Regions from separate parts of the Homo sapiens genome. Here region 1 is linked to region 2. The links come from fine-mapping of genetic effects on gene expression. A gene starts in region 2. The other region holds a variant in brackets. All regions are shown on one strand. Distances are between the middles of the regions. Region 1 overlaps ZNF350 (zinc finger protein 350). Region 2 holds the start of ZNF350 (zinc finger protein 350).

The links.
Region 1: its variant is fine-mapped to the expression of ZNF350 in whole blood (TOPMed, PIP above 0.99).

What each region holds. Positions count from the first base shown.
Region 1 is chr19:51,956,839-51,972,606 of GRCh38, forward strand. ZNF350 (zinc finger protein 350) reads right to left here. Exons shown (of 5, transcript NM_021632.4): 3 at 12,167-12,293; 4 at 11,740-11,835; 5 at 7,502-9,376. The coding sequence ends at 8,016. All of the region lies in intron 1 of ZNF350-AS1 (ZNF350 antisense RNA 1), which reads left to right. Among named protein-coding and RNA genes, the nearest start is that of ZNF350-AS1, 16 kb to the left of the region's middle. The variant G/A (reference allele first, on the strand shown) is at 7,731.
Region 2 is chr19:51,979,584-51,995,351 of GRCh38, forward strand. It overlaps ZNF350 (zinc finger protein 350), which reads right to left and starts at 7,257. Exons shown (of 5, transcript NM_021632.4): 1 at 7,187-7,257. ZNF615 (zinc finger protein 615) reads right to left here. Exons shown (of 7, transcript NM_001199324.2): 7 at 11,749-15,254. The coding sequence ends at 13,297. It overlaps ZNF350-AS1 (ZNF350 antisense RNA 1), which reads left to right. Exons shown (of 3, transcript NR_103847.1): 3 at 1,344-1,784. RefSeq lists enhancers at 6,722-7,597, 7,184-7,423.

The sequences.
Region 1 (15,768 bases), 23 kb before region 2:
TATGCCTATAATCCTAGCACATTGCGAGGCTGAGGCAAGAGGCTCTCTTGAGCTCGGGAATTTGAGACCAGCCTGGGAAACATAAGGAGACACCCCTGCCTCCAGAAAAAAAATTTAAAACTTAGCCAGGCATGTTGGCATGCACCTGAAGTCCCACCTAGGTAGGAGGCTGAGGTGGGAAGATTGCTTGAGCCCAGGAGGTTTACCAGTAGGGTGATTGCTGTATTAACCCCATGCAGGCTGGTAGTCCTCTAGCCACTGAATCCAACTGCTGACTGTTGTATTATATAGGTCTCTTTTGAGCCCCATGTTTTTGGGTCATAATGCCTAGGGTATTTTCTTGATCTTCCTGTACAAACAACGTAAACAAAATAATTTGGATTTCCTAGTACTGGGGCATCTATAAGATCCTTTAAATTGTTCCTAACATTAATTGATTTTTCTCTGTCCAATCCAGAGAGTCTGCTTGTCTCATTTTAAAAGGGTATAGAAAGGTAAGCTTTTAATGAAAAATTCAGAATCTAATTTCTGCAATAATTTTCCAGTTCCAGAAATCCTCTTAGGTGTTTTCTTAGTTTTTAGGGTAAGCAAGGAAAATATTTGTTTTATTCTATTTGCATCAATAAAAAGGCTTTTCTTGGACAATAGATAACTCTAAATATTTTACTCATTGTAGACAGAACTCAAGATTTTTTATTGGAGACCCCATGTCTCTTTGAAAGCAATTTTTGTAACAAGTGAATCCCATCTTTTTGTAGCAGCTTTCTCATCTTCTGAACAAAGAAGGAAATCATCCACATATTGTATTAAAGTATAGTTTTCAAAAATGCAGCATATAAGACATTTGGTTTCAATATTTCTGAGAAATAAGTTGGACTCTGAGTATATTCCTGAGGCACAATCATCCATGTCCATTGTTTGTCTTTCCATGTGAAGCCAGTAGTGTGGGGGAAAGCAAGAGAGATCAGACTATTACTATATCTATGTAGAAAGAAAAAGACGTAACAAACTCCATTTTATTCCGTACTAAGAAAAATTCTTCTGCCTTGAGATGCTGTTAATCTGTAACCCTAGCCCCAACCTTGTGCTTGCAGAGACATGTGCTGTGTTGACTCAAGGTTTAATGGATTTAGGGCTGTGCAGGACGTGCTTTGTTAAAAATGTGTTTGAAGGTAGTATGCTTGGTAAAAGTCATCGCCATTCTCCAGTCTCAAGTACCCAGGGACACAATGCATTGCAGAAGGCCACAGGGACCTCTGCCCTAGAAAGCCTGGGTATTGTCCAAGGTTTCTCTCCACTGAGACAGCCTGAGATATGGCCTCATGGGAAGGGAAAGACCTGGCCATCCCCCAGCCTGACACCCATAAAGGGTCTGGGCTGAGGAGGATTCGTGAAAGAGGAAGATCTCTTTGCAGTTGAGATAAGAGGAAGGCATCTGTCTCCTGCTCATCCCTGGGAATGGAATATCTCAGTGTAAAACTTGATCATACATTCTATTTACTGAGATAGGAGAAAACTGCCTTATGGCTGGAGGTGAGATATGCTGGGGGCAATACTGCTCTTTACTGCACTGAGATGCTTGTGTAAAGTCAAACATAAATCTGGCCTACGTGCACATCAAGGCACACACAGCACCTTTCCTTAAACTTATTTATGACACAGAGTCCTTTGCTCACGTGTTTTCCTGCTGACCCTCTCCCCACCATTACCCTATAGTCCTGCCACATCCCCCTCACCGAGATTGTAAAGATAGTGATCAATAAATACTGAAGAAACTCAGAGACCAGTGCTGGCGTGGGTCCTCCATACGCTGAGTGCTGGTCCTCTGGGCCCACTGTTCTTTCTCTATACTTTGTCTCTGTGTCTTATTTCTTTTCTCAGTCTCTCATCCTACCTGACGAGAAACACCCACAGGTGTGGAGGGGCTGGCCCCCTTCAGCTGTACACAAGCAAACACCAGATTCTCCATTCTCAGGTTCCATTACTCTATGCTGTACATTTGATTCTTATTCCGCCCCTTCTGAGGTATCTTGTGGTCTTATACGCTACCAGGAATTTGCAAGTACTTTCCCTTCTTGTGAAGTGTTTGGCACACAGGAAAACATGAGGGAATATTAGTTACTATACTTGTCCTTTCATGAATCATTTGAAATGTCACTTCTTCAGACAGCATTCTGGGATGCCTCTCAGTTTTGTCTTATTTATAATAATGCAATCATTAAATATAAAATTGCAACTCTTAAGTGGGGCTAAGGAAGGGAACTATAGAAGGCATTCAATAGGGAAATAGAGGAAGCATCTCTCTTCCGGGAATAATTGAAGATCATTTTTCCTGATCATCATCATCTGCTCACTTAACTGCTGTTCAGAATGGACTGTGAGTTCCACAAAGGCAGAAGTCTATAATTTATTTTTAGCCCCAGTGCTCAGAACAAAAACTGGAACACAGCACTTCAATAATAAGACTATTGAACAAATAACCATATTTGGCTGACAGGCTACAGTCTTTCCTTCTTCACTTACCCTCAAGGTGCTGTGCTGCTGCTCAGTGATAATTAAACATAGAAAAGATGCAGCTGGGCGCGGTGCCTCACACCTGTAGTCCCAGCACTTTGGGAGGCCGAGGCGGTGTATCACGAGGTCAGGAGATAGAGACCATCCTGGCCAACATGGTGAAACCCCATCTCTATGAAAAATACAAAATAGTTGGCTGTGGTGGCACGTGCCTGTAGTCCCAGCTACTCAGGAGTCTGAGGCAGGAGAATCACTTGAACCTGGGAGGCGGAGGTTGCAGTGAGCTGAGATCGCACCACTGCACTCCAGCCTGGCAACAGAGCAAGACTCCGTCACAAACAAAACATAGAAAAGATGCAAAAGAGTGTATGCTGTATGCCACCTTTTGAAAAAAGGACAAATAAATAATATATACTTGTATTATAAAAAGAAACACTGGACGGATTCACAGTAAACATGTTTACCTGTAAAAGCTAGAAGGTCAGGGGAAAACTAGGATTGAGAACAGGATAAGATATTCACAAATGTGCTTTTTTGTACAGCTTTAAGTTTTGAATCGCATGACTATGTGACCTAGTCAAACTATTTCAGAGTAAAAATAAACAGCCAGTAGAGTCTCTATCGCCCTAGGAGTGGAGGCTGATCACAGGGTAATCTAAGGATGAGATCATAAAATAAAACAAACCCTCCAAGCAAAAAAAAAAAAAAAAAGTTTTAGATGCCAGAAAACATTTGAATCTACAGCCTGCCACTTGGCAGCTAAGTAGCTTGAAAGCTGTTGGAGCAACACTCCTTAATTCAACCAAATACTGTCTCAGCATCTGCGAGGTGCCTGATCTAGTGCCCAATGTTGGAGGTGAAATGATGAGGAAAAAACAGACCTGCTCTCTTGAAGGGGGCCAGCCCTTCCACCCCTGTGGATATTTCTCATCAGGTGGGATGAGAGACTGAGAAAAGAAAGAAGACACAGAGACAAAGTATAGAGAAAGAACAGTGGGCCCAGGGGACCGGCGCTCAGCATACAGAGGACCCACACCAGCACTGGTCTCTGAGTTCCCTCAGTATTTATTGATCACTATCTCTACCATCTCGGTGAGGGGGATATGGCAGGACTATAGGGTGATGGTGGGGAGAGGGTCAGCAGGAAAACATGTGAGCAAAGGACTCTGTGTCATAAATAAGTTTAAGGAAAGGTGCTGTGTGTGCCTTGTTGTGCACATAGGCCAGATTTATGTTTGACTTTACACAAACATCTCAGTGCAGTAAAGATCAGTATTGCCCCCAGCATGTCTCACCTCCGGCCATAAGGCGGTTTTCTCCTATCTCAGTAAACAAAATTTACGATTGGGTTTTACACTGAGACATTCCATTCCCAAGGACGAGCAGGAGACAGATGGCTTCCTCTTATCTCAACTGCAAAGAGGCCTTCCTGTTTTACTAATCCTCCAGGGCCCAAACCCTTTATGGGTGTCGGGCTGGGGGAGGGTCAAGTCTTTCCCTTCCCAAGAGGCCATATCTCAGGCTGTCTCAGTGGGGAGAAACCTTGGACAATACCCAGGCTTTCTAGGGCAGAGGTCCCTGTGGCCTTCCGCAGTGCATTGTGTCCCTGGGTACTCGAGACTGGGGAATGGTGATGACTTTTACCAAGCATACTGCCTGCAAACACATTTTAACAAAGCACATCCTGCACAGCCCTAAATCCATTAAACCTTGAGTCAACACAGCACATGTTTCTGTGAGCACAAGGTTGGGGCTAGGGTTACAGATTAACAGCATCTCAAGGCAGAAGAATTTCTTAGTACAGAACAAAATGGAGTTCCTTATGTCTACTTTCTTCATAGACACAGTAACAGTCTGATCTCTCTTTCTTTTCCCCACACTCTCTGCCTTCAGGAAGTTTAGAATCCAGATGGGGAATGCACATGGAAATCTACAAAATGTTAAACTGCAGTTCCCCTAAGTGCTAGGAAGAAGAGGAACACGATCCTATGGAAGGCCAGACTGGTGAGGGAAAGTTGCTCTGAATTAGTGATGTTTGAAGATCCTGAAGGAGGAAAAATGCAGAAAATGGGGGGAAAGAAAAGTTCAGGCAGAAGAAAGAGCATGCACAGAGGCCTGAAGGTGATGAAAGGATGTCAGCAGCATATGAGGGGCCAAAAGAGGGCCAGTGTGTCAGAACAGGGAGAGCAAGGTGGAGTATGGGAGAGGGAAGAAAGAACCGGAACATGCAGACTTGATGGCCATTTTAAGGATGTTTGCCATTGTCCAGACCCCAAGCAGAACAGTCATTGCAAGTTTCAAAGTTTAAAGCTAGAGAGTTTCATAATCACAGCTCTATTAAGCTTAAAAAGTATGCTATATGAGGAATCCTTGGCTCAGTGCGTGGCAACCTTTTTGTCATCAAGTCACAGTTTTGATTAAGTTCAGGCACACCTATACTCTTGATTCCTCCTCTTCCCCTCACTGGGACTAATAACATTACTTGTATTAATTGTGTTTCTTGCTAGACACTGTTTTAAGGACTTTACATTTACTTCTCACAACAAACCTGAGGCAGATATTTTAAAGCTAAAGTCAAGACCTTGGTAAATTAGTTGCTCTATGGCACATGGCTTGGGCATGGCAGGGCAGGATTCAAACTAAGCAGTGTGACTTCAGGATACATTCCAAATCACTATGCAGGACTGCCTCTTGGCCCAGGAGGGACTGAGGTCATGGGAGCAGATGAAGGGTGATCTTCAGTGAAACTATAAGGATCTTGGGTTTGGGAGCAGACATGATGTGTACCAAGCTTAGGTATGCACTGAGCCTCCTTCATCTGGGAGGTCAAGCTCTGAAAGGTACGTTAAGCAATTGCTCAGGGTAGGCCTGGCCAACTCATCCTTAGACCCTGATAGAGCATAAGCAACCTGACCTTACCATGGAAGGATGTGCAGATTCACAAAGGCCAGATGTGGATAGGGCCTGGTTGGTGGAGCGCCCATTTCTGATTCTTTGCTGGAGAGTATCTGCTCTGAATCTATCCCATTATAATGTGGGGGTAATGATGGGGCACTAATCCAGGATTTAGGGCAAAGATGCACAAAATTAGGTGTGCACCAGAAAGCCCTCATTACAAATGCAGAGTGCCAGGTTCCAGCCCCAGAGGATCTGGTTTAGGAAGTCTAGGGGTGACTCAGGGATTTGCATCTTTTTAAATTTCTGAGAGACTTGCGGCAAGAAGCTCACAGACAATTACAAATACTCCTGGAGTATTCTGTGCTTACAAATGCTGTAACAGGCTCTCCTCAGTACACTTAGGTCTTGGCTCAAATTACATCCAGAAAAGCCTTCCCTTGGAGAAAAAAAATAACATATTTTTAAAAGCCCCCATCACTACGTATGCATTAGTATCCACTACTAGTCTTTTTCTCCTTCCTAACATCGTACAATCTGTTTCTCTGCCTCACTCAATGGTAAAGTTTATAAAGGTTATTCCTTTGCCTGTATTGTTCACCGATCCATCCTACTGTATCTAAAACAGTGCCTTGCACAGTGATGATATATAAAAGTTACTTAGTGGCCAGGCGCAGTGGCTCATGCCTGTAATCCCAGCATTTGGGAGGCCGAAGTGGGTGAATCACGAGGTCAGGAGTTTGAGACCAGCCTGGCAAACATGGTGAAAGTCCATCTCTACTACAAATACAAAAAATTAGCTGGGCGTGGTGGCAGGCACCTGTAATCCCAGCTACTCGGGAGGCTAAGGCAGGAGAATCGCTTGATCCCGGGAGGCAAAGTTTGCAGTGAGCTGAGTTCGTGCCACTGCATTCCATCCTGGGCGACAGAGCAAGGCTCCATCTCAAAAAAAAGGTTACCTAGTAACCCAGGATTTCTGTTGAATTCTGACCTAGCCACAAGGCAAATTTCCATTTATTTTCCTATGAGCAGCACTTACTGTAACTTGGACAGTGTATCCATATGGGATGAAGGTTAAAAAACCAGATAAAGAAGGCCAAGAGACCTACTCCCAGAAAAGTGAGAATGATGAAGATAAATCATGTCTCAAAAAAAAAAAAAAGAAAAGAAAAATCACATCTCAGTTCAGCAGGTCACAGAGAAGCTGGGATCTCTGAAATGGTAACCCTAGCGGGTGATAGGTCTTATGGACAAATAAAAGCGTCATCTCTAAGACGTCCCAAAAGAAACCCACCTCCTCCCATCTGTTACAGTCTCATCCATTCTCAGAGACTAAGATTTTCCTCCTCCTTTGTGTTCTACTTATTCTAAGAGTCCTTTTCCTTTTCTGCTCTGCCCCTTTTATATTTGGCTAAGTCTTTCTAATCACACAAAAGTTGTGAGTGACAATTCTATTCTTTACAACTGTCATTCCCTTCAATGACAAAATACGCTTCTCTTTCCAAATCATTCTCTCTCCAAATCAATACATAATTAGTTTTTGTTTTTCTATGTGTTGGGAAATATTAGATCATGCAAAGCAGCCTCTCCAGCATAACTTTCTGGGATGTTGGAAATAATGACAAAGAGTCCTCATTGTCTGAAAGTTCTGTTCACTCTGCTGTCCAGTTTAGTAGCCTCTACTCACATATACAGCTCTTGAGCAGTGAGGGAACTGAATTTTTAAATTTTGTGTTCAGTTTCTTTAATTCTAAAATTTAAGTAGCTACAAAACTTAGCAGGGAATTTGTAATCTCTTGGAGAGATAAGACACGGGCAAAAACAAACAAACAAAAAGCCCTCCTTTTTGTACTAAGGTGCTTAAGTACCATTAACAGCAGTCCTTCTGCTACTCCTTGAACAATAAATTATCGCGTCCCCTGGACACAGTTACTCCATGTCCATTTCACCTAATGTAGATATTTGCACCGCCTGACTAGATTGCCTGAGTGTAATGATACCACTTAAAATTAACCCCACAAACTCTCCAGGAGACCACAAACTTTTTCTTCTTTGACCTCAGCTCCTGGAACAGGACAAGGTACAAAGGAAATAATTTTAAAATATTTGTTTAATGAAACAAATTGACTAGTTTCACAGATCCCTCTGCATAATACAAAGTTCTGAAAGTTTATGGTCCTGGTTTTCAATTAATCCTCCACACTGGCACTGGTCTAAGGAAACTGAATTGACACATATGTGTCCCACATTCCACCATTACAGTATTAGCCCTTTCCCACCAACTGCCCCTTATGAAGCTTTTCAGTCACTGCAACACTCCC[G/A]ACACCAATTATCTCATCTGTTTTAAAAATTCACAGTACTTCATTTCCTCCACTTAAAAGTACTTGGGCTTCCTTTACTCATTTAATTGACACAGTCGAGCAATTGCTGTGTATGTGCTTAGGTTAACATCAAATTTGCCTGTGTATCACAGCATACATTTTAATAGGATGAGTTTATCAGGCTATCTCAGCCTTATACATGTTCTCTCAGTGTATGCTTTTCGGCCACATAATGAACTACAAATTTTTGCTCAACCCTTTTCCACATAGATCTGAGTTTTCTTCCTATGGGTTTTCTGTAACATAAAATAAGACATAATTGATCACGGAAGGCACAACCACATTCACTGCATTCACAAGGTTTCTGTCCTGTGCAAATCCTCTGTTATCTCCTGAGGCTGCACATCTGACCACTGGCTGTCCCACAAGGACTACGTTCCTGTTTGCGAGGAGGCCGCTGATGTTTAATGATGTCTGAGGGGCCACAGAAGGCACTTGTGTAGTCGCCCCGTTAGCAGAGTTTTTCTCCTGCATGACATCACTGGTGTGTAATGAGCTGTGCCTCTCTGCAGGAGGATTTTCCACCTTGGCTGCCTCTTGTTTCTCCCTTGTGTGTATTCTCTTATGCTTAACCAGACACGACATATACGCAAACGCTTTCCCACACTCGTTACAGCCATAGGGTCTCTCTCCTGTATGAGTCCTTTGATGGACAATGAGCTTTTGCTTTGTGCTAAAGGCTTTCCCACATTCACTACATTCAAAGGGTTTCTCTCCTGTGTGAATTCTTTGATGTTTAATGAGACCTGATTTCTGAGAACAGGATTTTCCACATTCACTGCACACAAAGGGCGTCTTTCCTGTGTGAAATCTCTGATGTGCTATGAGACACGTCTTCTGAATGAAGCCTTTTCCACATTCATTGCATATATAAGGTTTCTCACCTGTATGAATTCGCTGGTGTACAATGAGATTTCCTTTCTGGATGAAGCCTTTTCCACATTCACTGCATATATAGGGTTTCTCTCCGGTATGTGTTTTCTGATGTATGTTGAGCCGTGATTTCTTGAGAAAGGCTTTGCCACATTCAGGGCATTCATAAGGTTTTTCTCCTGTATGAGTTCGCTGATGTTCAGTAAGCATGAACTTTCTGGAGAAGGCTTTCTCACATAGACTACATCTGTGGGGTTTCTCTCCTGTATGCATTACCTGGTGATCAGTTAGCCAAGACTTCTTGATGAAGGCTTTCCCACATTCACTGCACACATGATGCTTCTCTAATTTTCGTGTTTTCTGATGCTTGGGACTGATGAATTGGGACTTAGTGCTGATGAGTTTTTGACTTGCAGGGAATTTAATTGCAGTATGAAGTCGTTCATGGTTAGCATGAAGAAAGGAGTCCCCATTTCCAGTAAACTCAACAGAGTTCTTTATTTCATAGCCTTTGCTCTGGTTAACTAAAGTTAAATTGGATTTCAAACTTTTTCCACGTAAGTCAAATATATCATGATTTTGCCCTAACAGAAACTGACTTTTGCTGCAATGAACAATATTTTCAAATGCATCATGTTCATGACATGGTTTCCTTCTGTTCACCAGGCTTTCACTCTGCAAGCGCTCCAGCACATGATCAACTTTCCATATGTCTAGAAAGAAAAGAACAAAGATTTCTATCATTTAGATTTGGGGTAAAAGTTTGTTGTGGTTTTTTTGTTTTTTTTGTTTTTTTTTTTAAGATGGAGTTTTACTCCGTTGTCCAGGCTGGAGTGCAATGCTGCGATCTCAGCTCACTGCAACCTCTGCTTCCCGGGTTCAAGGGATTCTCCTGCCTCAGCCTCCCAAGTTGCTGGGATTACAGGTGCCTGCTACCATGCCCGGCTAATTTTTGTAGTTTTACTACAGACGGGGTCTCACCATGTTGGCCAGGCTGGTCTCGAACTCCTGACCTCAGGTGAGCCATTGTGCTCAGCCAAAGTATTTTTTGTTTTGTTTTGTTTTTGGGAGACGGAGTCTCACTCTGTCGCCCAGGCTGGAGTGCAGTGGTACAATCCCGGCTCACAGCCAAAGTATTTTTTGTTGTTTTTTTTTTGTTTTTTGGGGACGGAGTCTCACTCTGTAGCCCAGGCTGGAGTGCAGTGACATGATCCCGGCTCACTGCAACCTCCACCTCCTGAGTTCAAGCGATTCTCCTGCCTCAGCCTCCCGAGTAGCTGGGATTACAGGCATGCACCACCGCACCCAGCTAATTCTGTATATTTAGTAGAGACGGCGTTTCACCATGTTAGCCAGGCTGATCTCGAACTCCCGACCTCAGGTGATCTGCCCGCTTCAGTCTCCCAAAGTTCTGGGATTACAGGTGTGAGCCGCTGCACCCGGCCCCAAAGTATTCTTTTTTTTAATGCCTTGATGTGAGGTGTCTCTTAGTAATAACCCTATGACCTGAGTGTAAATAAAACTCCATGTTTAATGTTCCTTGCACATTGGCAAAAAGTAATAGTATAAACAAACTAAAAGGTGAAAGCAGTTAGCATAAAACAAGGTTAGATCACTAATAATAAAGACAGATTTGGCTGCTTTCTAAATGTGCCTTGCAAAACAGACCTTAAAATACAAGCAATTCACTGTGACCAGCAGACCAGAGGCTGGAGGCCCATTTCGTCCAAAGAACAGATTCATTCATTCCACATACTCTTACTGAATGATCACCGTGTGCCAGGTATGGTGCTGGTGTTGGGGATAGGCACAAGAATCGCTTGAATCCAGGAGGTGGAGGTTGCGGTGAGCCAAGTTCACACCATTGCGCTCCAGCCTGGGCACAGAGCAAGACTCTGTCTTAAAAAAAAAATAAATTAATAAAAATAAATAATAATAATGAATAATTTTTAAGGGAATGAGTCAGGGAAGTAATCATATGTGTGGAACACACCAGGCAGGGTTTAGGAAAGAGGATGGAAATCTCTTTGTGAGCAAGATGGTATTATATCACAGAGATCACTGAAATGAGAAATTTGACAGGTAACATGGTTTACTGGGACTTGGTGTCATCAGAATACGATGGGGAAAAAAACGAAAGCAAATTATTAAATACAGAAAGGAACCAAATGGAAGTAGGCGGGAGTTGAGAATGTAGGATGTTAAAAAAATGACTTTTTTACTTAGAGATGCATCATGACTAGCAGAGACCTTTAAAGAAGAGAGCTCTTCAGGCAGGTAATACCCAGATGGCCAAGATTCAGGATGTACAGGAACAAACGAAAATCCAAACTTAATGGTTTTCTTGGAGGAAAGATGATTCTAGTTCCTTGCAGTTACTAGGAACTCAGGGGAGAGTTGCCATGAAGTAAATTACACAGAACTAAAATCTGTGTTAGATAACAACAGGGAGATGTCAGTTTGGGACTCTCCTCCAGGGAGCGGAAGGAGTTTAAACTTACTAGAATGAAGGCAATTTTGAAGAGTGAAGGGCACAGATGAGAAAATGGAGAACGGGACCTTTGGAGAACCTAAGAATAAGGAAAAAGAGAAGCGAAGGAAGCCAAGGCACAGCGAAAGTCCAGTTTACCCTGAGGAAGCCACATCCATCACAGGGGAGGTGTTAGGAGGGGAGGTCAGCATTAGCCAAGGGGCACAAAGGGGTGGGAGTCCGAAAACAGTGAGGACTTCAAAGTTTCCTCTTTGGAAAGAGGCCTGGAAGGTGGAATTTCGTAACAAGAGAGGTGGAACAACATGAAGAAGGGAAATACTTGAAACCCGAGGAAGAAGAAAATTATGCAGGCAAACAAACAATATGTAGATAAAATAATCAGATCTCTGAGGAGATAAAGAGTTTTTGTTTTGTTTTGTTTTTTTTTAACTCTAAATTCCTACAAAGAAAAACTGGTCTCACACTGGGAGACAGATGAGTAGAGGAACTGTTTACATATCCTCAAACCCCCTTCACAGCTGTGCTGCCTTCTCTGACTGTCTAGAATGTGACTTCCATAGCCTTCTGTCTTGTGGGTTCTCTCACCTGAACAGGCTCCACTGTGGATTCCATCTTCAATTGTCCACAGTTGTTCTCCTTGTTCCAACTTGAAGAGTGCATCCGGTTTGCTGGCTTGATACCCTGTTCATGGAAAATGATAGAGGACTTAGACATATCAAATTGGGCTGGCAATGTCAAGAAGGAAGAATGTTACATTTCAAGAAACTTGAGTTTCTTAAAATACCCAAAATTTAGTTTCTTATCTGAAACTATGAAAGTTTCGTTTCATATCTGTAACATCAAGGTTTTTCTCTTACAAGAGGGTAGATTACACCGTCTTGTGTGGGAGCAAGAGAAGGATCTGAGAATCTACCACTTCAGAGTACTGCAGGCATTCCAAAGAGGTAGGCATCTGAGAAAGGAAGGCCACTGACTAGGCACCCTCTGAGTGACACAGGGCAGCTGTCCTCACCCACTGCCACCAGGTTGCTGTAGTTCTCCAACATCACATCCCGGTACAGGTCCTTCTGAGCAGCGCCCAGGAGTTGCCACTCCTCCCAAGTGAAGTCCACAGCCACATCCTCCAGTGTTATGGATTCCTGTAATAACAGTCCTGTTTAATAAAGTGATGTCTTTTTGATGATGTGGAAGAAATGCTAAAGTTTTTCTGCTCATTTCCACTCTACAGGCTGTGTGCATATACCAAATAGTTTTTTTTTTAATACAATGTGGAAGAAGTAAAGTCCTAATATAATATTCTGTAACTGTATATTCAGTCATCCTCCATTCACCCAATTGGAAGTTTCTATAAAGTGTAGAAGTTAAATCTTGCTAACCTAAAAACAATATATTTATACATTTTATATATGTAAATATATATGAATATATGTACATATATTTATTTTAGATACATGCAAATGAAAGACATATATACAGCCATCCTTTAGTATCTGTAGGGTATTGGTTCCAGGACCTCCTGAGGATACTGAGGTGTCTGATATAAAATGGCACAGTATTGGTCAGGCACAGTAGATCACACCTGTAATCCCAGCACTTTCGGAGGCCAAGGCAGGAGGGTCACTCGAGCCCAGGAGTTCAAGACCAGCCTGGGCAACATGAGACCCCATCTGTACAAAAAATTAAAAAATTAGCTAGGCACAGTGGTGAGTGCCTGTGGTCCCAGCTACTTGGGAGGCTGAGGCAGGAGGCTCATTTGAGCCTAGGAGTTAGAGACTACACTGAGTTATGACCATGCTACTGCACTGCAGCCTAAGCAACAGAGCAAGACTGTCTCTAATAAAATAAAATAAAATGGAATAGTACTTGCAGATTTGCATGTAACCCATGCACATCCTCCCATATACATTTCTGTTTTTTTGAAATGGAGACTCACTCTCTTTCCCAGGCTGGGGTGCAGTGGCATAATCTCAGCTCACTGCAACCTCCGCCTCCCAGGAGCAGGCAATTCTTCTGCCCCAGCCTCCCAAGTAGCTAGGACTACAGGCATGTGACACTACGCCTGGCTAATTTTTTTTTTTTTTTTTTTGAGACGGAGTTTTGCTCCTCTTTCCCAGGCTGGAGTGCAATGGTACAATCTTGGCTCACTGCAACCTCCGCCTCCCAGGTTCAAGCGATTCTCCTGCCTCAGCCTCCCGAGTAGCTAGGATTACAGGTGCCCGCCACCACAACCAGCTAATTTTTTGTATTTTTAGTAGAGATGGGGTTTCACTATGTTGGCCAGGCTGTTCTCAAACTCCTGACCTTAGACGATCCACCCACCTCAGCCTCCCAAAGTGCTGGAGTTACAGGAGTGAGCCACCGTGCCCAGCCCCATATACTTTAAATTATCTTTAGATTACTTATAATATCTAATACAATGTAAATGGTATGTTAACAGTTGTTATACTATATTGTTTAGGGAATCATGACAATAAAAAAGTCTGTATGTGCTCAGTTCAGATGCTTAAAAAATATATATTTTCAATCCTCAGTTGGTTGAATCCATGGATGTGGAAGCCATGGATATGGAGGGCCAACCATATATCACAAATCCAGGCCTCCTATTTTTCTGATGGACTAATTATAAACTGAGGGTTCCTATGACCTCCTTGAGTTTGATAATTTCTCAAGAAGAAGGAGAAAATCAAGTAATGGAGAAACAATATCCAAAGATCTAACACTGAAAATTTTTCAGAACTGATTAAACACTCCAAAATTCAAACTCAAGAAATCCAACAACTTTTCAAGCAAGAAGTCTACACGTAGGCACAACAGATTGAAACTAAATTACACCAGATACAAAGGGAGACTATAAAAAAATCCAAAGACCAATGACAGGTTACCTACAAAGGAGACAAAATTTTCTGACAGCTGACTGCTCCACAGAAATCATTATAGCCAATAAATATTGGAACAATAAATGTAAGGTCCTCAGCTCTTGGACAACACAGCCCAACCTTGAAGACCATTTAGGACTGAAAGGCATGGCTGGCAAAGGACCTACAGCCCTGTAATAGTGACAATTAAGACTACTTATCAATGAATTGTCAATCTCTTGTCTCAGGATGCAGGATGGCTTTAAAGGATACTGCTGGTGGGAAATTGAGTCATTGAAGACCCAGGGAACAGCAGAAGGTACACTCTATACTCATTTTATTACAGAGGCCAGTGAACACACTTGGTAGATGATACAAGTACTTAATCCTGGTTGGTTTACCCATTCTAAATTATTTATGTGAGATAGCTATCTATTTGGAAAAAAGTAAAGTGAAAGTCTTACCTCAATCCACACTCAAAAATAGTTTACTATATGACAGATCTATGGCAGGCAGATTTGATGGCTCAATGAACTCCACCCTCCCAGTGTTCACACCTTTATGTAGTTCCCACTTACAGGGAGCCAAAGGTCCGTGGGACGTGACCAACTCAGCATTCCACTGGAGGCTATATGATCAAACAGCAAACTGTTTATCATGAATGCAGGATGTGAGCAAACTCACCATTGCTCCTGCCGACAGAAGGTTTTCTGGAGGCAATCACTCCCTGGTGCTGAGGTTATCTACTGCAACATTTAGAGAATGTAGTCTTGCAAGCCTCCTCTGGACTGAGCAGCTGACCCCTACTTCCACTGCACCCCCCCAACTATCTCTTTTGCCTAATAAATGCAGAGGGCTGTGTAAAGCTCAGGGCCCTTGTCCACTAGAGGCAAGGTACCCCCTGACCCCTTCCTCCGAATATACTTTTGTCTCTTGTCTTTTATTCCTGTGTTCACCCCACTGTGTTCAGTCCCCCTAGGTCTGTGCGGGTTACAAGTGGCGCCCAAACAGGGACAGAATTGGGTGCTCTACACCCTCTCCTTGAGCAGGGACTGGCCTAGTGACTTACCTCTATTCAGAATATGGCAAAGGCGTTGGAATCTCACCTCCTTAATTAAGCTATACATGTTTAAAAAAATTATTCAATGAGAATTGTTAAAGCACAGTAAGGAAGACTTTATTCAGGGCCATTATGACAGGTATATAGACAAATGTAATGGGATTTTGCAGTGGTAGAGGGTGAATGGACTTAACTCCAAATATCAGCATAAGCAAGTGGGAATTTATAGCCAAGGAGCAGAGTATGGGTCAGTAATACAAAATTACCAAGAGGGCCAGGCACAATGGCTTATGCCTGTAATCCCAGCACTTTGGGAGGCAGGAGGATTGCTTGAGCCCAGGAGTTCAAGAGCAGCCTGGGCAACATGACAAGACCCCATCTCAATTAAAAAAAAAAAAAAAAGGAAAAAAGAAAAAAAGCAGAAAAGTAAAAGTAAAAAATAAACTCATAGTCAACCCACCCCCGCCACACACACACACACAAAACCTTTATGATCTTTTATCATTTTTCAGATTAAATACTTGATTCTCTCCTAACCCCCAATGGTGACAAATGCATTTTTTTCAAGTATAGCTATAAACTGATGGAATTTTATATAATTAATGTTCTTCAATCATTTGCAATCATTGGTCTTTGGATGTTCAAAGTGTAGCATCTTCGGCCAATGAAGAGTCCCTTCAAGTTGGCTGCTATGTTCTT
Region 2 (15,768 bases):
TATTAATGTAACTGGTGTGCTAACCAATCATTCCCAGTCCAGTCACCCTAATTGTGCTGATTATACAGAATGGATTCCATTCAATAGTTCCTACCCCACTCTGTGGACCCAGTGTCTTGATCCACTGGCTAGTAAACAATATATGTCAACTGAAGACACTGTGGATTGGGAACCTAAAGGTCAATTAGATGGAAAAGGTGAAAGTCAGAAATCATGGCACAAACTTCACTGGCATTGGCGGCAAGCTTTTAATGCTTCTTCTTTATACAACAGCAGAATCCAATCCCAGTCTGCTGCTCAGATTGCTTGGCATGGAGCAGGCTTTAGCCCACCTCTTCCTCAGTTGCATTATCTGGGGAGGAAAGGACCAATTCAAGAAACTATATGGAAGGCAGCACTCCCATTTATGAATGGCAACATCTGGATTGGAACACTGTCTAATAATAGCAATAGTAAGCAACACAGTCTTAATGTTGCATTTGTAAAGAATATCACCACTCAGTTTACAGTTTGTGTTTTTAATCCTTATGCCTTTTTGGCAGCTAAGAAGAACCAGCTTCAGGTAAACAATACCCAATTGACCTGTAAATCTTGCCAGTTATATCACACTGCATTAATCATAGCACATTACGAACACATAATATCTCTACTTTGATAATGTTGGGTTGCATCCCTGGGCTATGGATTCTTGTTAATCTGTCTGAGCCTTGGGCTGCCACACCTGCTTTGCATTTTTGTAACACTTCTTCTAACTCAGCTTACTCACTGTGTCCATAGAGCCTTAGGCATAATTTTTGCTATTGTTTCCTTGGTCAAACTAATAACTTCTGTTGTGATATCTTCTGTAACTCTGCATAATTCTATTCAAACATCTCAGTAGGTGGAGAACTGGACACGCACAGCTGACCAAGCGAGGCTACTTCAGAATAAAATTAACACTGAGTTACAAACTGAAGTGGCAATGTTGAAATCCATGGTTCTGTGGTTAGGAGAACAGGTACAAAGCTTGCAGTTGCAGCAGCAATTGCGTCATCATTTTAATCACATTCATATTTGCGTAACTAACTCAGAATATAACCAAAGTGAGTATCCGTGGGACCTTGTGAAAGCCCATTTGCAAGGAGCTTTCACATCCAACATCACCTTTGATATTGGTGAATTACAAAACAAAATTATTGATTTAAATAGGCAAACTCAAGAATTTCAGCCTTCTTTAGAAGACTGGACCGAATTCCAGGAAGGCCTGGAGAGCCTCAACCCTTGGACCTATCTAAGGCACCACATTAACATCTTATATGTAGTTCTTGGAATAATGTTGTTTTGTCTCTGTCTTCGGTTTATAGTCTGTAAAATCGGATGGACCACCAATTGGAGAATGAGAGCCTCCCAGCCCAGCCTTACATTCTTTCAATTAATACATAAACAGAAAGGGGGATATGCAGGGAGCCAAAGGCCTGTGGGACGTGACCAACTCAGCATTCTGCTGGAGGCTATATGATCAAACAGCAAACTGTTTATCATGAATACAGGATGTGAGCAAACTCAGGACTGCTCCTGCCAACATAAGGTTTGCTGGAGGCAATCACTCCCTGGCACCGAGGTTATCTACTGCGACATCTAGAGAATGCAGTCTTGCAAGCCTACTCTGAACTGAGCAGCCGACCCCTTCTTCCACCCCCCCACCCTCCTATCTCTTTTGCCTAATAAATACGGAGGGCTGTGTAAAGCTCAGGGCCCTTGTCCACTAGAGGTAAGGTGCTCCCTGACCCCTTCTCCCAAATATACTCTTTTGTCTCCTGTCTTTATTCCCACGTTCACCCCCATTTGTGCAGTCCCATGGGTCCATGTGGGTTACGGCCCGCCACCGCGCCTGGCTGATTTTTGTATTTTTAGTAGAGATCGGATTTCAGCATCTTGGTCAGGCTGGCCTTCAACTCCGGATCTCATCACACACCCGCCTCAGCCTCCCCACATGCGGTTATTATAGTTGATATGTCTGAACCAAAATGATATGGGAAGCTTGAGAATAAAAGGTTGGAGACAATATGCCACAGAGAGAGTAACCAAAGATAATCTGTTATAACTATATCTCAGACAAAACTGACCAGAAATCCTAAAGAATTAACAGAGAGAAAGAGAAACAATGCTCACTGAAAAGAGGTGAAATTTGGCTCTTCATTCATAGAAATACACCATATGTATACCCCTAACAACAGTCTTGAAATGTATACAGCAAAAAATAGAACCAAAAACAAGAAATAGAAAATTCAGACTAAAGACTTTAACAGACCTTTCCTAGTAACTGACAGAACAGACCATCAACAAACAAAATAAAATTTATAAATGAGAAAGAAATGAATCTTTTATCTGAGGAATGTGACTCCCTTTAAATTATCAGGTCTAGAGAGGCATTAAAATGTGACAGCAGTCTTTCTGATAGGGGTTCCCCTGAAAAAAAGAAAAAAGAAAAAATTAAAAACTAAAAAAAAAATTTAATGTGACAATAGTCACATCTCATTTCCCCCTCAAGCTAAATAATTATCTCTTAAAGCCACTTGCTATGTAGGCTCTAGACTAACTCACACTGAGTAGCCATAAAATGCCATTCACTGGACATCCTAACTCATAAAACCCCATAGTTAACAATGTACAGCCAATTGTTAATTGATATTATTTCTGTAAACCAATGAGAATTCTTGCCAAACAACTTTATGTCAGCTCACGGTTTGTTCCCTTTTGACTTTAAAACCTGTTTCTAACAAAATCCTAACAGAGCACTTAACCAAGGCAACCTGAAAGTATTTTCCCAGGCAGCTGTCCTCATTTTGGCTCAAGTAAACTCTTTAAAATTGTATTTTGTGCAGTTTCCTCTTTTAGGCTGACATAAACGATATCATTTAGAAGAACTCGAATATATTTTTAAAATTAGATTTACTGAGATAAATTTTAACAGTTTTAAATAAATGCAAAGATGTACTATAAAGATGGGCTGGAAAACAAAGCATTTTAAAAATGTCAAGTCTCCCAAATCTACAGATTCAATGAAATCACAGTCACAATCCCAAACTGATACTGAAAAGTTTAAATAGCTATAAACTTTTTTTTAAAGTTTGAAAAAAAAGTTAGAAGACTTGCCATATCAGTTATGAGGACTTATAAAGCTACTTTAATTAGGACAGCACAATATTAGTACAATAACAGGCAAATAGGACAAAGGAACAGAATAAAATCCTTATAAGCAGAATTAAGCACATATAGAGACTCAATGGCAATGATAGCACTACAGGGAAGTAGATAAAAGCTGTCTTTTCAATAAATGGAACTAAGGGCGCCGTGGCTCACGCCTGTAATCCTAGCACTTTGGGAAGCTGAGGAAGGTGTGGGGGAAAGAGAGATCAGACTGTTACTGTGTCTATATAGAAAGAGGAAGACATAAGAAACTCCATTTTAATCTGTACAAAGAAAAGTTCCTCTGTCTTGAGATACTGTTAATCTGTAACCCTAGCCCCAACCCTGTGCTCAGAAACGTGTGCTGTGTTGGCTCAAGGTTTAATGGATTTAGGGCTGTGCAGGACGTGCTTTGTTAAAATGTGTTTGCAGGCAGTATGCTTGGTAAAAGTCATCACCATTCTCCAGTCTCAAGTACCCAGGGACACAATGCACTGCGGAAGGCCGCAGGGACCTCTGCCCAAGAAAGCCTGGGTATTGTCCAAGGTTTCCTCCCACTGATACAGCCTGAGATATGGTCTCGTGGGAAGGGAAAAACCTGACCATCTCCCAGCCCAACACTCGTAAAGGGTCTGTGCTGAGGAGGATTAGTGAAAGAGGAAGACCTCTTTACAGTTAAAATAAGAGAAAGCCATCTGTCTCCTGCTCCTCCCTGGGAATGGAATGTCCCGGTATAAAACCCAATCATACATTCTATTTACTAAGATAGGAGAAAACCACCTTATAACTAAAGGTGAGACATACTGGCGGCAATACTACTCTTTACTACACTAAGATGTCTGTGTAAAGTCAAACATAAATCTGGCCTACGTACACATCAAGGCACAGGACCTTTCCTTAAACTTATTTATAACACAGAGTCCTTTACTCACATGTTTTCCTACTGACCCTCTCCCCACCATTACCCTATAGTCCTGCCACACCCCCCTCACCAAGATGGTAAAAATAGTAATCAATAAATACTAACAAAACTCAGAGACCAGTGCCGGTGTGGGTCCCCCATATGCTGAACACCAGTCCCCTGGGCCCACTTTTCTTCCTCTGTACTTTCTCTCTGTGTCTGATTTCTTTTCTCAGTCTCTCATTTCCACCTTGCAAAAAATACCCACAGGTGTGGAGGGGCAGGCCCCCTTCAGGCAGGTGGACCACTTGAGCCAGAGTTGGAGACCAGCCTGGCCATCATGGTGAAACCCCATCTCTACTAAAAATACAAAAATTAGCCAGGCAAGGTGGCACCTGCTGGTAATTCCAGCTACTCGGGAGGCCGTGGCACAAGAATCACTTGAGCCCAGAAGGCAGAGGTTGCAGTTGAGCCAAGCACGCCACTACACTCCAGCCTGGGCGACGAGAGCAAGACTCTATCTAAAAAAATTAAAAAAAAAAAAAAAAATCAATAAATGGTACTGGGGATGGGGACAGAAAGTTAAAACCCCCCTCACAACATACACAAAAACCATTTTAGAATCAACTGTCAATTTCAATGGTAGAAACATATCAATAAAGCTTTAAAGAACATTAATATAGGAGAATCTCTCAATGTTATTAGGGTATGGCCAGATATTTTAAAGAGGCCACATAAAGCACCCTATAAAGCAAACTATATCCTGCTAGGGGAACTGTAAGTGGTACAACCACTTTAGAAAACAGTTTGACATCTATTTAGACGGAGTTTATACACACTCTATGAAGCAGCAATTTTCCTCCGAGGTGCACATCTAGATATACATCTCTGCCTCCCCCATATGAGAGCACATATGAACCAAAAGACATTTACACAAATTTTCACACATGCATTATTCTTAATAATACAAGCTTTAGGTAATACAAATGTAATTAATAATAGAAAAAACTGCTATATTTTACATAATGGAATGTGATAGAAAACCTATTATACCTTTGGTCCAGCCTGCAAGAATGCTTTTTACATTTTTGAAAGACTGTAAAACAAAAAGCAAATTAGCATATGCAAGAGACCATATGTAGCCTGCAAGCCCTAAAATATTTACTGTAAATTCGCCTGATCCTTGTCATTGAGCAAAGAAAATATACTCAGATGCAACAGGAAAGACCCTCACCAATAATGAGCAAAAGAAGGCTGACACAAAAAAAGAGTGATGTACAATTCCACTGATATACAGAGTTTAAAATAGGCAAAACTGTATTAACTACAATGATAAATAATGATTAATTATATAAAGAAAAGCCTAAAATACTTTTCGGTGTGAGAATGGAAAAAGACTCACAGAACACCACTGGTGTGCTGACCATATTCTATTTCTTGACCTGGGCAATGACTGCTTATACATATATTGCCTCCATGATAATTAAATTGTACATTTAAAATATATAAATGTAGAAAAATTAACAAAGTAAAGGAAGAGATCAACCATACCAAACAGTTTACCTCCAGGAAAGGTGTTAACTCCAGACAACACAACGGGTGAATTTTACAGGTGGGTAATAAAACAAGAACGTCCACTAACACCCTATTTTCCTACTTTATACTGGAAAGTTGAGCCAATGCATTAAGATAAGAATGAATTATAAGCATTACAAAGTAAGACAGAAAATTAATGTTATTTTCAGGCGATATCATCACGAACATGGAAAAAGAGATTCAAGAAATTACATATTTAAAAAAGAAAATGCTCCCTCAGAAACTCCCAGGCAGATTTTCACATACATAGTTGGCTAGAATTGCACCATACGCCTAAGCTCATTTCCATGTCAAACCTATCACTAGCAATGGCAATTGGAACCAGCAAGATTGGCTAAGACCAACAAGGCCTTACTAAGAAACTGGGATTTGGGTCGCCTTGCCACAGGGATGAATACTTCACGAAATGGAGATTCTGTTAAGAAAGTGTGAATATAAGGCGGGCAAGCAACACTCACTATATATTAAGAAGTGAAGGCCGGGCGCGGTGGCTCACGCCTGTAATCCCAGCACTTTGGAAAGCCAAGGTGGGCGGATCACCTGAGGTCAGGAGTTCGAGACCAACCTGCCCAACGTGGTAAAACCCTGTCTCTACTAAAAATACAAAAACTAGCCGGGCGTGGTGGCGTGGGCCTGTAGTCCCAGCTACTCAGGAGGCTGAGGCAGGAGAATCGCTTGAACCCGGGAGGCGGAGATTGCAGTGAGCCGAGATCGCGCCATTGCACTCCAGTCTGGGAGACAAAAGTGAAACTCCGTCTCAAAAAATAAAAAAAATAAATAAAAAATAAAAGAAGTGAATGCAGAGGTTGGCAACATTTTCGATTTTGCCGGCCACGAGGTCTCTGTCACAACAACTCAACCGCTGCCTTTGCAGCCATAGACAATATATAATCGGAGGGTATGACTGAACTTGACCCCCCGATCTGTAAATAGCCACCCCAAGGATCAGAAGAGTAGATATATGGTTTCGAACTAATGCTGGGGGCTGTGTCGCCTTTTGCCCCAGTAACCGAGGTTCGAACCTCAACCCAGGACCCAGGGCTCCAAAGTCTCGAAAGCTTCAGCCCTCACAAGCCTTTGTACCACAGACACTGGCCCCATGCCTCTTACTCATCCGAACCACGGACCAGACACTCTACAGCGATGGACATCCTCCCAGACTCCAACATCACTGAGTTCCAAATTAAATCCTGAACCCGAAGCAGACGCCGCATCGATCCTAATCGCCACCTCCATCCTTTACAAGCAGAGTGATCCATACCTTGACAGTTAGGACACGGCCGTTGATCACTACAGACCCTTAGTCACTGTACTCACACCAAAGGCACGCGGACCACAGACAGGGGGATCACAGACTCCCACCAGGTACCTCCCAAATGCCTATACCCCGGCGCTCCCCAGTCTTCCTGCCAAAAACTATGTGGTCCAGGGTACACCACGTCCTCAGATCTCCCAAACCTTCCACTGAGACAAAACCTGAACTAGGACAAAAAACTTTCAGGGACAAAACCACACACTGACCTCTATTTTCTCCAGATACACAAGAAGGGCCTCAACGTTACACTTCCGTAAACTGCTCCTACTTCTGGAGTCCTCGCACGGGTTTATGGTCCACCTACGGCGGCCGAGGAGAACCTAAAATGTTTAAAAGAGCAAGGACAAGCGCATTTACGGCATTTCCTACTCTGTAAAATGGCCGCGCCCATAGCCGTGGCTCCTGACGGCAGCCATGTTTGAAAATTGGACGCACAGAAGGCAGTGGCAGGTTTTTGAGCCAGGAGCCAGGGAAGAAGAGAAGTCACTGAAATCGCCTCGTTTCCTGGCACTTAAAGTCTTGCGAAAGGGGGCAGATTTTCAGAGACTCAGGCTTTATCAGGCAAATATGGGGCAAGCTAAATTGCCTTTAGCGCTTTTCCATCCACTTTGTTAAATTTAAAAAAAAAGGTTTTGAAAAAGACAAGTAACAGTGCAGCCAGGTGTAGGTATCCCAGAGAATGAATTGGAAATGGAAAAGGTAACAGATCAGGTAGAAAGGGAAAAGGCAACACATCAGGTAGGCAGACACCCACGGGAAAGCGTCTGGCGAAAATTAGCTTGCAGGAAGCGGTTTTTAAGAACAGAAAAATAGCAGGTATTCGGGGGGGCGGGTGGTGAAGAAAGAAAAAAATTATAATTTTTTTTGAGACGGAGTCTTGCTCTGTCGCCAGGCTGGAGTGCAGTGGCGAGATCTGGGCTCACTGCAACCTCTGCCTCCCTGGTTCAAGCGATTCTCCTGCCTTAGCCTCCCAAGTAGCTGGGACTACAGGCACGCGCCACCACGCCCAGCTAATTTTTGTATTTTTAGTAGAGACTGGCTTTCACCATGTTGGCCAAGATGATCTCGACCTCCTGACCTCGTGATCTGCCTGTCTCGGCCTCCCAAAGTGCTGGGATTACAGGTGTGAGCCACCGCGCCTGGCCTCGAAAAAATGATTATTATTTACAAAAAAGAAGAAGAAGAAGGAGGAAGAGGAGGAGGAGAAGGAAGAGAAAAGAGGAGAAAAGAAGAGAAAAGAGGAGAGGAGAGGAGAGAAAAGAGATTTTGAGAATGAATTACGATGTGAGCCTGGCCACGACAGACTAAAGGAATTGGGCCTCCTAGAAAGGCCACTTTTAGTAAAGGTGCCAATGGGAAGAGCAGAGCCAGAATTGAGAGTATAAAAATATTGTTAAGAGTTTTTGACAAAAGTGCCAAGACAATTCAATAAGAATAGTCTTTTCAACAAGCGGCACTGGGATAATTGGATATCCACATCCAGAAAAATGAGTTAGGACCCTCAAACCATACACAAAAGTTAACTCAAAATAGATCATAGATCTAAGTTTAAGAGAAAGTATAAAACTTAGAGAAGGAAAAGGGAGATAATCCTCATGGACGTGAGTTAATTCTGAGAGGAGAGTAAAGGATGACCCACAAAACAAAATAAAATTAATAAAGTGGACTTGATTTTTTTTTAAGTTTGTGCTTCTAAACACAACATTTAAGAAAGTGAAGTGGGGCACGGTGGCTCACACCTGTAATCCCAGCACTTTGGGAGGCCGAGGCAGGCGGATCATCTGAGGTCAGGAGTTCCAGACCAGCCTGGCCAACAAAGCGAAACCAGTCTCTACTAAAAATACAAAAATTACCCGGACGCGGTGGCGCGCGCCTGTAATCCCAGCTACTCGGGAGCCTGAGGCAGGAGAATCGCTTGAATCCGGGAGGCGGAGGTTGCAGTAAGCCGAGATCGCGCCACTGCACCCCAGCCTGGGCGACAGAGCAAGACTCCTCGGTAAAGACACCACTTCGTCACCCTGAATTACTCTGATTTTTATGGGTACAATGAGAATAGTGGACCTAGGAAGAAAAAGTTTTTAAATAGAAACCTTCAGGACAGATTTGGACTTGAAAGACTGACAGGAAGTGTTTCCAGCATCCAGTTAGTCTCAAAGCAACCACTAACCTTCAACTGCACACCTGAAAGCCTCCAGCCTCATTACATTCTCAAACACAGACAAGCCCCGTCTTCCTCTAAATAAAATTGCCTTCAAATTCAATTTAAAACTTACCACAGAGGCACTCCTTTGACACTCCTCCCCCTAGACCTTTCATTCACGCCACTCCTCTTCCTAGCTCGGGCTTCTCTGTATCTGAGCCCCATATTAAATTGCAAATCTGAGCAAAAAACAGCATTCACTGAGACACACTTTCCCCAGTTTTCTATTACTGAGACTCATGAAAAGTGAACATATAGACCTCAAGCTCTGTCCGTGGGACCCTCAGTCATTAAACTCTTAAAACTAAGCCTTAACCTTTGACATCCCAAGGGTCTCTTTCTCACACCCATATTCCTCGGTGACTAAACTGAAATAAAACCCCTGAACACGGACATTCACATGCGTTTCCACTTCATGGTCGTCCCCACAAGCTCCCCATCCGGATTCACACGCAGCATCAGGCTTTCAAGGCTACAGTAGCAGCTGCCAAAGGCTGAACACGTATCAGAACCTACTTCCGATTCTGGAATTCTGGTGCTGCAACCCCATCCTTCGCCATCTCTAAGAACACCGAGAGACTGGGAGGCGGGCTTCCGGAGAGGGATATGGGACATTTCCCAAAGTCCAGGTTCTGGCTTTGAACATTTTATATGAGGTAACATAGCTGTTTTACCTCATAGAGCATATTATGTCATTTCTGATGGGAGTGACCGTAGATTATTAGTGGAGTGATAGACACGCACATCAACAGAATAGAGTCAAGAAATGGACACAAGAACAGGCAACTGATTTTTACAAATGTTCAAAATCAATTTAATGGAAAGAGGACAGTGTTTTCAATACTGTTGAATCAACTGGGCAACCATAGGCTGAACTTTAAATTAACCCTTACCCTATATACAAAGATGAATTTAAATGGATATTGCTAAATATTAAAAAGCAAAACTGGCTGGGCGTGGTGTCTCACGCCTGCAATCCCAGCACTTTGGGAGGCTGAGGTGGCCAGATCACGAGGTCAGGAGATCAAGACCATCTTGGCCAACATGGTGAAACCCCGTCTCTACTAAAAATACAAAAATTAGCTGAGCATGCCGGTGCGTGCCTGTAATCCTAGCTACTTGGGAGGCTGAGGCAGGAGAATCACCTAAACCCAGGAGGCGGAGGTTGCAGTGAGCCAAGATCATGCCATTGAACTCCAGCCTGGGTGAGAGAGTGAGACTCTGTCTCAAAAAAAAAAAAAAAAAAAAAAAAAAAAAGAAGCAAAACTACATTATTTTGTCAAAGGAAGTGGAAAAAGAATTATCAATTACAGTAAGGAAGGAATACTTAGATGTAATGCCAAAACCCCACAATCCATTAAAAAAAAAAAGGCTGGGTGCAATGGCTCACACCTGTAATCCCAGCACTTTGGGAGGCCATGGTGGACAGATCACCTGAGGTCAGGAGTTTGAGCCCAGTTTGGCCAACACGGTGAAACCCCAATCTCTACAAAAGTACAAAAATTAGTGGGACATGATGGCAGGTGCCTGTAATCCCAGCTACTCGGGAGGCTGAGGCAGAAGAATCACTTGAACCTGGGAGGCAGAGGTTGCAGTGAGCCGAGATCATGCCATTGCACTCCAGCCTGGGCAAGACAGCAAGATTCCATCTCAAAAAAAAAAGTTGGACTTCATCATAATTAAAATCTTTTTCTCTGAGAGAAAAAAAGAAAGAACCACATCTATGGAAAAATATTTGCAAGTGATATAAAACCTTTATCCAGCTGGATAAAATCTTTATCCAGCATTAATAAACAATGCTCTAAGCAGCGCACAGTGGCAAATGCCTGCAGTCCCAGCTACTCTGGAGGCTGGGACAGAAAACTTCTCAAGACCAGGAGTTTGAGACTGTAGTGTGCTATAATGGTGCCTGTGAATAGCCACTGCACTCCAGCCTGAGCAACATAGTGAGACCTTGTCTCTTAAAAAAAAAAAAAAAAAAGCCTTTAGGGAGGTGCAAATGGAAGGCCACATACAATTGGTATGTTTGTATTCATACCAATACACACACAATAGAATAGGTAAAATAAAACATTCCAGTCCTGCGTGGTGGCTCACGCCTGTAATCCCAGCACTTCAGGAGGCTGAGGCGGGTGGATCACAAGGTCAGGAGTTCGAGACCAGCCTGGCCAAGATGATGAAACCCCGTCACTACTAAAAATACAAAAATTAGCCAGGCGCAGTGGCAGGCACCTGTAATCCCAGCTACTCAGGAGGCTGAAGCAGGAGAATCACTTGAACCCCGGAGGCAGAGGGTGCAGCAAGCCAAGATCGTGCCACTGCACTCTAGCCTGGTCAACAGAGCAAGACTACATCTCAAAACAAAACAATACAAAACAAAAAAAATACTGACAGCATCAAGTGGAAGAATGTGGAGCAACTGAACCTTTCTATATATTGTTGGTGAGCAATGAAACACCACTCTGGTTAGTATCTTACAAAGGTAAACATACACTTACCTTATGACCCATGAATCATACTCTGCAGTAATTATCCTAGAGAAGTAAAAAATTGTGCTCACACAAAGCCTGTGTGTACAAATGTTCATAGGATTTTTATTTGTAACAGTAAGAAAAACCGGGAACAAAACTAATGTCCTTCAGTGGGTGAATAAACAAATAGTGGTATATTCGTATCATAGATTATTAGTGGCCAATAAAAACAGAACAATGATATGCAGAACAACTTGGATGGATTTCAGGTTAATCTGCTTTAGTTGAAATAGCCAATACCAAAAGGGTACATGCTGTATGATTCCATTTTTATAACATGCTACTAATGACAAAACTAAAGATGAAAAGATTTCTGATTGCCAAGGGTTAGGGCTGAGGAGAGGTTGTGACTATAAACAAGGAGCATGAGGGAGTTTGCATTGATGCAACATTCTGAATCTCGATTACGGTGGTGGTGACATGAATCAATATATGTGTTAAGATTTCTTAAAGCTACATATAAAAAACAAACAAAAATGCATGCATGTTAAAACTGGTGATTTCCAAATAAATTCTGTAGTTAACAGTATTGTAACAATTTCACTTTCCTGTATTTGGTAATGAACTATGCTTATGTAAGTTGTTATCTTTGGAAGAAGCTGGGTTAAGGGCAAGAACTCTGGAATATTTTGGTAAGATTTTGTGAATCTAAACTTATTTCAAAATAAAAACTTACAAAAACATCTTATTTATATTAATTTCATAACACCTGATGTTACTTATAAACTTAAACATATTCAAGTATGGTCAATTACACTTATGAACTGAATATACTGTATCCAGTTTCATTCTGAAGTACTTTAGTTATTCTGAAATAACACAAACTTAGAACCAAAGAAATGCAGGAGCTAATCATATAATAAAATGAGGCAGGCATAAAATACTCCGGTATTATATACAATATTAAATTTTAGTTCGTGATTAGAGGAAGTCACAATTTAAAATGTATAAAATCAGTGACAAGGCAACTAGGAATATGGCTCAAGCTATCCTGTTCCCAAATGCACATGAGGCATATTATCTGTTAAGGTTAGAATTGTGACAGAAAGCTCTCATCCATCATTTTGCCAAGGCTTCTTTCCTTCATTAAATTCTCTGATATTTTCCTAAAAGTCTTCTACATTGAATGTTTTCATAAGTTTTTTCTGCATTATTTCCTAGCACACGATGAGGCAAAACATTTTACTGAAAACCCTGCCACAGGGGTTTGCCAGAGGAAAGTATTTCTCCAGTGTGAACTCTCTCAATCTGTTGAAGTTTTATTTTTGGGCAAAGACGTTCCTATAATTATTACATTTCCACGAATTAGTAGTTTATTCATGATCTATGATCACTTCTGAGGGGGTTTATCTTCCCACCAAAGGCTTTTATAGTCTGCCACATTCATAGGATTTTTCTCAGTATACAATTTTTAGACATAATGTCCTAAAATATTTTCTCAAATGTTTTGTACATGTTTTCTCTGACACAAAACATGAAGTAACTGATCACTAAATAAACAACCATGTAGTCTGCATTCATGAAATTACTCTTCTTTGCAGATATCTTAAGGGCCTACATCTGGCAAGAGGCTTTCCCAAAATGACTACCTGTGAATTCTCCTGTGTTTAACAAGGATAGACAAGTGCGCAAAAGCTTTCCCACAATCACTACATCCATAGGGCCTCTCTCCTGTATGTTTTCTTTGATGAACATTGAGCCCTGATTTTGTAGTGAAGGCTTTCCCGCAGTCACTGCATTTGTACGGTTTCTCTCCTGTGTGAATTCTCTGATGTGTAATAAGATCATTTTTGCGCAAAGAGAATTTTCCACATTCAGTACATGCAAAGGAAGTCTTTCCTGTGTGAAATCGCTGATGTTGTATGAGGCATGTCTTCTTCCTGAAGGTTTTATCACATTCATTGCATTTGTATGGCTTCTCTCCAGTATGAGTTTGCTGATGTATACTGAGAGTACTCTTCATGGTGAAGCCCTTTCCACATTCATTGCATATATAAGGTTTCTCCCCAGTATGAGTTCGCTGATGTGCAATGAGCATGCTTTTCCCAGTTAAGCCTTTGCCACATTCACTGCATACATAGGGTTTCTCTCCTGTATGAGTGCGCCGATGTACATTGAGATGACTCTTCTCAGTGAAGCCTTTTCCACACTCATTGCAAATATAAGGTTTCTCTCCTGTATGAGTTCGTTGATGTCCCATTAGCCGGATCTTTGCTGGAAAGCCTTTTCCACACTCACCACATACATAGGGTTTTTCTCCAGTATGAGTTCGCTGATGCACAATAAGGCGGCTCTTCACAGTGAAGCCTTTTCCACAATCATTGCATATATATGGCTTCTCTGCAGTATGAGTTCGCTGATGTACAATGAGGTCACTCTTCATGGTGAAACCTTTTCGACATTCGGTGCATACATAGGGTTTCTCTCCAGTATGTGTTCGCTGATGTCTGATGAGTGGGCTCTTCAAAGCGAAGCCCTTTCCACACTCATTGCATTTATAAGGTTTCTCTCCAGTATGAGTTCGTTGATGTACCATGAGACAGTGCTTCATTGAAAAGCCTTTTCCACATTCACTACATGTATATAATTTCTCTCCTGTATGAGTTTGCTGATGTGTGATAAGACTGTTCTTCAAGGTGAAGCCTTTCCCACATTTATTGCATATAAAGGGTTTCTCACCAGTATGAGTTCGATGATGTGCAGTAAGACGCCTCTTCTCAATGAAGCCTTTTCCACATTCACTACATATATAAGGTTTTTCTCCTGTATGAGTTTTCTGATGTGTAGTGAGACTGAACTTTGTAGAGAAGGCCTTCCCACATACACTGCATCCATGGGGTTTCTCTCCTGTATGAGTTCGTTGATGATAAATGAGCCGACACTTCTTGATGAAGGCTTTCCCACATTGGCTACATGTGTAAGGTTTCCCTCCCATATGAGTTTTCTGATGTATATTGAGCTGTGATTTCTTGAGGAAGGTTTTGTCACATTCAGTGCATTCATAATGTTTCAGTTCTGTATGAGTTCTCTGATGGTCCATTAGTCTGGATTTTCTGGAGAAAGCTTTCCCACACATACTGCATACATGAGGTTTTTCTCCAGTGTGAACTCTCTGATGATCAATAAACTGAGACAACTTGAGGAAGGCTTTCCCACATTCACTGCATACATGGGCATTCTCTATGTTGTGAGTTCTCTGTTGCTTAATGAACTGGGACTTATTAATAGGTTTTGCAATTGCAGGAAACTTCATTTCAGTATAAAATTGTTTATGGTTAGCATGAAAAAGGGATTTCCCATCTCTATTAAACTCAGCAGAGTTCTTTAGGCCAGAGCTCCTTTTCTGGTTTTCAAAACTTAAATTTGATTTTAAAGGTTTTTCATGTAAGTCAAACGTATCACAATCTTGCTTCAGCAGGAAATGACCTTTGTTCTGATTAACAATATTTCCAAACATATTCTGTTCATGGCACTGTTTCACACTCTTCTGAATACTTTGATTTTGCAAGTGATGCTGCAGAGGATCATCAATTTTCCTGATTTCTAGGAAAGAAGAGAACAGTCAATCACTCCATCATCTTGTTTTGAAATAAACTATTTAAACTATTTTTTAAAACTGCCTTGGTGTGAGGTGACTCTTTAGTGAAAACCCTATTTTATTTATTTATTTTTTTGTGAGCAATAAAGCTTTTTAATCACCTGGGTGCAGGCGGACTGAGTCCGAAAAAGGAGTCAGAAAAGGGTGATAAGGGGAGGGCAGTTTTATAGCATTTGGGTAGGTAGTGGAAAATTACAGCTAAAGGGGGTTGAAAACCCTATTTTAGTATAAAGGAAACTCCATGTATAAATATCCCTCATCTCTTACACATTGGGAGAGATGTGTAAGATTCCTTTTATCTCTTACACATAAAGGAAATTCCATGTATAAATATCCTTCATTTCTTACAAATAAAACACAATAATATAAACACACCGAAAAGTAAAAGCAACTGTACAAACAAGGCTAGATAATTCACAATGTATATAGATTTGGCTGCTTTCTAAATAGGTCTTTATA